Linked DNA regions of Homo sapiens: region 1 is linked to region 2. A link means that fine-mapping ties the variant in region 2 to the plasma level of a protein whose gene starts in the linked region. Region 2 holds a variant in brackets. A gene starts in the other region. All regions are shown on their forward strands.

Region 1 (4,356 bases), not on the chromosome of region 2:
GCTGCTTGGAGTGTGTCCCGGCTCAGGGGTGGCTGCAAAGGCACTCAGGCTGCTGCCCATGCACTTGTCTACCTTCCTGTACAGTCAGCCCCTTTATATATGGCATGAAATTCATCTCTCTGTCCAACAGTTGTTAAGAGGCCCTTGTGAGCTAACCTCTGAATGGGAAGAAATAATTCTCCCTTCCCAGCTGCCAGTCTAATTCAGAACGTGTCCACAAATCCAGGGCACAGAAACAAACGGAAACACAGAACTGTACAACTATAAAAGTATTTGCACAAAGCCAAAACATCTTCCTTCTTTCTCTCTCTTTGGCATTTATTTCAGACCCACAGTGATTTTTTACAAAAGATCGTAGCTCACCTTGTCGATGAAGGAGGCAAACTTATTGTTGAGGGTCTTGATCTGCTCGCGCTCCTCGGTCCTCACCCTCTGGATGCTGGGGTCGATTTGCAGGTTGAGGGGAGTCAGGAGACTCTGGTTGACAGTGACCTCTTGGATACCTCCAGGAGGGCAGACAGGAAAGCCAGGGCCACCGAAGCCACCTCCAAAGCCAGCTCCGCCACCGAGCCCAAAGCCACCACCAGCTCCACCGCCGAAACCAAATCCACTACCGGCACCACCTCCAAAGCCATAGCCGCCTCCAGCACCAGCACCAAACCGGTTCCTGAAGCTGCCACCACTAGTGCTGATGGATATCCTCTTGGAGCCCCCCAGGTTGTAGAGGCTCCGGCTGCCATAGCCACCCACTCCACAAGCACCCGCAAGGCTGACCCTGCCGAAGCCACCACCACCGCCACCCCCGGACCGGGACACGGAGGTGAAGCTGGTGCGGGAGACAGACGGGGTGATGGCAGAGGCGGTGCTGAAGCTACGACTGCCCCCGCTCCGGAAGGACACACTTGACTGGCGAGACATGGTGGCTTGTTCCTGGTGGAGCAAGAGAACCAGGCACTAGTGGGTTGGGAGGTGCTGGAGAGAACAGAGCTCAGCAGGACGCAGAAGGTGGCTCTGTTACCCAGGAACGGTGATGCCCCCTTTTTATCCCTTCCAGAACTGGGCTGGGCGAGAGAGCTGTCGAGCTGTGAATGATTAAGTGGGCTGGGCATGCCTGGGGGGCAGCTGTGAGCTCACCGGTCACACCTGCACAGTGGTGTGGGGTGCAAACGCTTTCTTCCTGGCAGGCTCTGCTCAGTTAGAAATAACCTTGCCTTGCAGCACTGATCTCTTGGCAGCAAGTTGGTGACGCTGCTAGCAAGTATGTCTTCACCATAGAGGCTGGGGGCTGTGAGCAGCCCAAAAAGGATGCCAGGAACTGAGGGGGCATTGGCATGGCCAGTGTCCTGGGGACTCTTACAGGACCAGGAGTATTGACAACCATCCCAGTACGGTACATGCTGAGCACCTGCCCTTCCAGCTTGGGGAAGCTGTCCATCAGCGGGGGGCAAACGATTCCCCAGTGATCTGCTCTTACACTTTTCCAGGCAGCAGGTTGCTGCAGGGTTTTCCCCTCTGGGAAAGGCAATCTGTAGCCTTATATTCTTGGTTATGTGCTAGAGGGAAAATAGAGTTTCATCCTTTTCTGCACAATTTTTTTCTTAGGGAAGGCACAGCTATCCCAGAGCCCACTGGGCAGATCTGCCTGCAAGGTTTAGGCCAGAGAATGTGGGAAGCCCTCAGCGCCCCCTATAAACCACTTTGACCTCTTTAAGGCCAGGTTTATCCTTCCATAGCTCCTCCTAACTCAGCATTTTTTCTGCCCTTTGACCTTTTCCTTGCTCTTTGGCCTGGGCAGGACTCTGTGGGGGGTTTAGGAAACCCGGGGATCCCATGCAATCCCTTAAAAAAAAACCCTGAGACTCATGGGCTATAGCGTCTCTCTTTGGGGGTAGCTACTCTGCCGGTTCCCCAGCCCCCCAGGTGTGTTCCAGCAAGCTCTATTCCACTAGGGAAGAAATGAGTCATCGTATGTGTTGATACAGGCTGAAGGCCGCCACAAACACATACCTGCAGGAGCTTCTAATCTCATCAGGAACATGTTGAGAGTCTGACGGCCTGTTATAACGGCGAACCACCCTGTTCCAAGCAGCGGGACTTGCTCTGCTTTCTCTATGCTGTAGCCCACAGCCTCCTTCAGGGCCAAGGCAATGGAAAACGGGATTCTAAGTCTATGGATTGTCCTGCCAGAAAGGCTAGCCAGAGCAGGCCTGTGGGCCCAGGCAGCTGGCATGACAATCTGCCAGCTGCTTTAGGGAGGGCCCTTTGAGATCCCCTCTGCAAAACTTGTCTGGGGGGTTGTGGCACCAGGTGGAGGAAAGGGGGTTTCTGATGAGGTTTTAACACACGTCTGTTCTAAACCACACCCACTCTTTTTGGCAGCAGATCTGAGTGGGGCCACCTCTCTGCCGTCCCCCAAATAGAAGCAGGGCTCTCAGGCAGGACAGTGCTTGGGCTGTTCAGAGTTTCGGGGGCGCCCTGTGGCCCGAGGCTGGAGGTAGGAATGCAATGGGGATGGCTTCAAAGCCTCAGGGAGGAGGGGCTATATTCTCAAGAGTAGAAGAACAGGACCAGACCCAGGCTCAGGAATCTCTCACCAGGGCCTGCGGTTGGCCACAAGGAAGCCAAGGCAGTGGGAAAATGACTCCCTGGTGCTGAGGATCAGCTGAAACAGTGACTTCTCACCAGAGGGCTGCGATGAGCAAGCAGCTGACAGGTCAATCTCGGCAGACAGACCAATGGCCGGAGCCGGTCTTACAGGTCTTGAGCAAAATGGTTTGGGTGGCCTCCCTGGCTGGAGCATTTCTGAGACCCTCAGAGATGAATTGTGCTGAGCTCACCATTTTCACATTTGGTTGCTTTCTGGAGAACAGATGTGAGTGTCCTGGAGGCCTGAGACATACCAGGGGACCCTCGGCTCCTGATAGAACAGAACAGATCCAAGCCTGAAGCAAGTGTCTGAGGACTCGTAGTGGGATGCTCCTGCTCCACTCAAAGATCGATATCGGGGTATATCCCCACCACCACATACACTCACAGGTCCCGGGTACAGACCTCACTGCCCTCAGGGAAGCCCCACCCCTCCTGAGACACTGGGACATTCTCTTCTCCCCATTCATTCTCCTCCCAGCTGTGTTGTGAAGAAAGAGGACTTGGCAGAGCAGGAATGCGTTCTGGCTAGTCTGAGGATTGCTAGAGTGTGCCAAGCTCAGATCCATGTGCCAGGGACCAACGGTGAGTGTGTGGTGCTCCATGGGAGCAGGGAGCATGTGGGTGCTCCATGGGAGAAGCAGCAGCACTCTTCTATCCGAGCTTCGTGGGAATCCTCCCATGAGCAGGCAGGGCAGCCCCTCCCTCAATGCCAGACCTGGACAGGTATAAATAATGGAGCCGCTCCTGGTGGGGAGCCAGGCACCAGCACCACTGCAGCTCGGGAGAGTCCCACCCCAGCCTGGAATTTCACTGTGGCAGGAAGGGAGGGATTGTGTTAGGCTCACCAGGGAGCTTTCCTGCTGGGCACCCCACAGAGGCAGTTCCCAGGCTTGGTGGGACATGTTGCTCAGCTTCTCCTCTGGGTGCTGCTTTCCTTGTCAGCAGAAGACAGTGCAGGGCCCGCCCTGCTGCTCTCCCCATCAGAGAAAGGACAGTAAGCTGGCTGCCCTGACCTCTCTCGCAGAGCTGTGCAGGGAATGTAGGACCTGGTCAGCATTTCATACATGGAGAAGCCCTTCACAGACACCAGGGAGAGGGTGGTATCCATTCGTGGAACAAGGGTTAGGCAAATCCTGCCATCCCAGCCCAGGATTCCTTCTCCTCAGAGCCTCCACTCCAATCTGTAGGGCTTTAGTAGAAGATACATTTAATAGAGCATGATAAATAGAACATGTTCCATAAAACAGCATTTGTACATATCCTCTAAGTCCCCCCCAGCAGGGCAGTCTCCAAGGTTAGGGAACATCTCTGCATGGCCCACACCCTCAGCCCAGCCTTGGGCACTGGAAGTGTTCTGCAGATATTTTTTGGAGTGAATTGACAGACAGAAAATCCTCTTCCTCCGCTCCTTCCCCAGATTGTTATGTGAAGCCCACAATGGCAAGAACCTCAATTGCTTTTGCACCAACCTATATCTACACCAACCTATGTATAACAGAATGTATATACATTATATATATTCACATATATTTCTGTGAATCCTCCAGCCCTATGCTGAGTCTCAGAGTCTTGTCCATCTGATTTTGTCTCTCAGTCCGTGTCTACAGGATGAGTCTGTTGTCCCCTTCACACTGGGTATGCTCTGTGTTTAGGATTTAGGATTTAATCTAGCATTTAGGATTCTTTATTCCTTAGGCTTCCCTCCAT
Region 2 (4,391 bases):
GGTAGTTTTTCAGCCCTTGCCTTGCTCCCTCTCTCCCTTCTCTGGTAGTCCCCAGTGTCTTTAGTTGCCATCTTTATTTATGTCCAAATGCCCGACTGTGTGTTCTTAACTAAACATTTTGATTCATAGCTACCCATTCTACTTCCAGTAAACAGAAAGTTTTATTTGGTTAATGCTAACCAAATAGATTAAAAGGAAGTCATGACAATTAGACATTGACATTGATTTACTGACCATTTATTCCACTTGGATCTCCCACCTCTAGGTCAAGGAGAGCCTCTGGATGACTATGTGAATACCCAGGGGGCTTCACTGTTCAGTGTCACTAAGAAGCAGCTGGGAGCAGGAAGTATAGAAGAATGTGCAGCAAAATGTGAGGAGGACGAAGAATTCACCTGCAGGTATTTCCATTGTCGTTGCACCTACGCAGGAATCTGTAATTCAGATGGCAAGTAATTTACTCACAAATTTATTAATGATTTAAGAGGAAAGAGAAATTTATGGAGCCAGAGTTTGGAACTATATTTGCTCACAGTATGTGAAGCCATACTAACAGCTTCTTGTTAAGGTTTATTGGAGTCTTTGTTAGAAAAATACCCTCAAAGGAAGTTATTTGTTTTTACACCGGACACAAACATTAGCAGTTATTGTTCTGAGCTCCAGTTTTCAACATCATCATCAGTAAATGTTTGTTGAGGATCAGGTGAATGAAAGTGTCCTAGATAGATCTGAGCAATGACTTATAGCTACAAGATCCAGTGCCTGCCCTTTAGTATTTAAGGTGTAGTCAAAGAAACTGGATATAATGTTAAAAAAAAAAAAAAGACAGCCCAAGTGAGGTACAGGCATAATCAATGCATGCTCTACCCAGATCCAGAAGAAAGAACAGTGCCTAAGGTTGAGGCAGCTAGAGAAGGCTCAGGGAGGAGGTGGGAACTGAGCTGGGTTTGGAGTTGAGAGAGCTCTTGACAAGCACCAGGAAGGCAGGGGAAGATGCGGCCCTGCACCTTCTGAGGGGGACCATTAAGAGATGAAGTTGACTAAAGCAGAGACTTTGTGTAGGTGACGGGCTTGGGAAGGTAGCTATGGAATCCAGACTGAGCACCCATAGCAGGACCACGGGATGGAGATGGGAGGGGTCAGGGGCCAGGGTGGGGTGGAATGTGGAGCAGAGGTTCAGGGGAACTGATCAGAGTTGGGAGGTCATGGAGACGGACTATCTTGGCGAATGGGTTCAAAGCAACCAGAGTTGCTTCTTTCCAACCCAAAAACAAAAATTAAGAAGATGAGTGAAGAAGAAGTAAAGCAGTTGAAACAGGAAGAAAGGGAAAATTATGAGGGAGGGAAGGTAAGGGCAGATAAGATTTGCTGCCACGTTGGTGTATTTTGTTCAGTACTTCATCGATGCCATGCCCAAATAACTGAAAGAGGCAGCAATTCTGAGCTCTCTGGTCCCTCAAGATATTCAATGATCTTTAGCATGTCTCACTTATTAATAAACATTTGTTTTCTTTAAATAAAGAAAAATACTTATTGGATTTCCTGCTTCGTTCTGCAGGGCATTCCAATATCACAGTAAAGAGCAACAATGTGTGATAATGGCTGAAAACAGGAAGTCCTCCATAATCATTAGGATGA[G/A]AGATGTAGTTTTATTTGAAAAGAAAGGTGAGTACATTTTCTTCCTCCTCCTCCTACTGTCCTCCCCATCCTCCCACTCTTCCTCTTTCTCTATTCTATCTTTAATTTATAAGACCAGAGGAGGAAGGCACTATCGTGTTATAAAACTGAATTCTGAGTTAGGACAGGATTTGATTACTAACTAACCATGTCAGCTTGAGTGTATTACTTCACCTCTTAGATTTAATTTTTTTTGTTCAAAAGATGAAAGGATTAGATTTACAAAATCACTTCTACCTCTATGACCCTGAAAATAAGATTTTTAAAATATTATTTTATATTTAACAAGGAGATGGGAAGTCTAAGCATTCCTTTTGGTCTTGGCTTCTTATTCTGCAGGGTGACCATGGTCCTTGGGCCCTAACATCTGGATGAAGCCTTGTAAAACAGAAATACTGAGGTGTTTTAATCCTCAGAAACATTTAGATTGGGACACAAATCTTATTTTTACTCTTAAATTTTTCACATTTTGGGGGACATGGTCTATATTTTTCTCAGATTTCTGAAATGTTGTCTTTTAAAAATGTGTAAAAGTTACAGTTCCTTTTCTATAGTTTATTTTAAAATGTGGGTCAATAGTCCCACTGCTTAGAATAAGAGGCAGACAGGATTTCAATAGAAATTGCATGCCTTTTTAGATGTGCAAATGTTTCATTAAGCATTTCCCATCAAGTATATCCCATCAAGTATGCTCCCATTAAGCATATCCCATCAAGTATAAATATTTGAAGGGATGCATGACACTTTAAAAACTGTTTCCTCTACTGTGTTGGTAGCCAGGTATTAAGACTGTTAATAGTAACAATTTAGCTCTCCAAACATTCTGCATCCCAGGTGTTAAAGAGGACTGGAAACACCTTAGTTCTTGTATTCTTGAGGATGATTTGCCATATTGTGTCTAGTATTACGGCAAAACTCTAAGTAGCATTTTAAATAGTATTTATTTGGGTTGGAATTATTTCTATGCATTGACTCATCTTCCTGGGTTTCATTAGCTGTACGCATTGTACTTCCTTCCTTACCACTATTTATCTCGAATTCTTGAGATTAAAGTGCAGATTAAATCTAAACTTTATCTGGTGAAGTTATTAGTTCTTACAAGTAGCAAGCAAACGGTAAACTAAATAGGATCACCTAATTGTACCAGATTTTAAAAAAAAAAAACCCTGATTCTCCTGATTCTCTCTACAAAATGCTAACATTTAAATATGTCATTTGTAAATTGTTAACCAGAAGGAACATGGGAATGACTGTAGGTTGAGTTTGAAGTCTGAAGTTTGAAGGCTTAGTTTGCTTGTTTTCAAAGTGACAGAAGGGAGCAAAAGGTTATATAAACTCTGATGGGTACATACAAAAAAAAAAGAAGTGAAAAGTCAAAAGTCAGTCATTTTTTGGTCCTTGTTTCTTTGCTGTGGGATATTGACCTGCTACTAACTTACCTGCCAGGGTTTTGCCAGGAACAGTCAGTGTTAGATCACATTTACTTCTGCCACTTGCCACCAGCCACACTGCCTTCACCAAGTCCAAGACCCTATCACCACTGGTTGGGGCTACTTGTAGCTGTACACATGATCTCTAAGAAATGTAACTTCCCTGTTTAAAGCCCTTCCTAGTGCCCTTAAAATAAGACCCAAAGACTTCCCAAATGTGCTAGGGCCCAGCATTATTTAAGTAACCCCCAGCTGCTGTTTGCTTGGCTTGCTAAACTTTTCTACACTGGCCTTACTTCTGTTCCTTCACCACCCCAAGCACACACCCTCCTGCCTGGGACCCTCTTCACCTTTGTCCTGCTGTGCCAGCTCCTTCTTATCTCCTAGGTGTCAGCTCAATCATCATGTCCTTTGCAAATCTTCCTTGACCCCTAGACCTCCCTTTCACAAAGTACCTTGAGTTTACACTTTTGATGAGTGTCTTATGTCTACTGTAATACTATGTCCCAATGAAGATGTACTTGCAATCATAATACGCAGTATTGGGTTAAAAGCATTAGTTTGCTGTAGGTATGTTAGGAGCACTTTCCCCATGTGATTGATCAATTAATTAAAAAATGGCTAAAGTGGGTAACCTTAAATGATGGTGTAAATATACCTTAAACATTTTATATTTTCATTGAAAACACAAGTGTACTTGACACCTTTTGACGTAGAGCAGAGGCTTTTCTTCTTCGAATATGGGGTCACCAGTAGAAGGTCTCTGGTGTATTTCCTGCATAAACTATGCTCCAGTGCAACATCTACAATAATTACTTTCCTTATTTTTGAAGTGGACCATATCTCGACATTTATTAATCAATCTGAATGTGTAAAACCTTTAGATTTTTATGAATTCCTCCTCAAGCTTTATAGTCAACTATATGAGTGGATTGCCCTCTGTGGATTTGATAGCAATTTTTTAAATGATTCATGTTTCAACTTGTTAAAAACATTTAATTTAGTTAAAAACCAAACAAAAAAGAGCTTTGTTTCTTTTCACATTCATTTCTCAGTTTAGATCATCTTTAATTAAATATAAATGTAAGAAAGTTGGAAAATGCAAAGAAATGACTCGTTGTAAGCACATAACTCACGTGGGGGGAACAGACATGGGTGGGCACACTAGCAAACACCTGCCAGCTGCATGTGGACCCAGGTGGGCACCGGACTGTTTTAAACACAGGAGAGGGCCCGTTGTCTAACTGGTGAGTTGGTTGAGTGGAAGCTGGTTGAGAACTTTTA

Direction of the effects. Positions count from the first base shown, and alleles are read on the strand shown. Strength reflects both the effect of a copy and how common the allele is.
As copies of A replace G in region 2, the plasma level of the protein whose gene starts at base 1,016 in region 1 goes down (weak association).

What was found. PIP is the chance, under the fine-mapping model, that this variant and not a neighbour inherited with it causes the effect. The UK Biobank Pharma Proteomics Project read protein levels with antibody pairs (Olink). The fine-mapping took linkage between variants from a reference panel, not from the people measured, so its PIPs are less certain.
Region 1: it holds the start of KRT5, and the variant in region 2 is fine-mapped to the plasma level of the KRT5 protein (UK Biobank, PIP 0.98).

Annotation. Positions count from the first base shown.
Region 1 is chr12:52,519,379-52,523,734 of GRCh38, forward strand. It overlaps KRT5 (keratin 5), which reads right to left and starts at 1,016. Exons shown (of 9, transcript NM_000424.4): 1 at 364-1,016. The coding sequence starts at 918. RefSeq lists enhancers at 1-103, 2,923-3,888.
Region 2 is chr6:160,706,142-160,710,532 of GRCh38, forward strand. PLG (plasminogen) reads left to right here. Exons shown (of 19, transcript NM_000301.5): 2 at 266-401; 3 at 1,559-1,665. Among named protein-coding and RNA genes, the nearest start is that of PLG, 6.1 kb to the left of the region's middle. The variant G/A (reference allele first, on the strand shown) is at 1,639.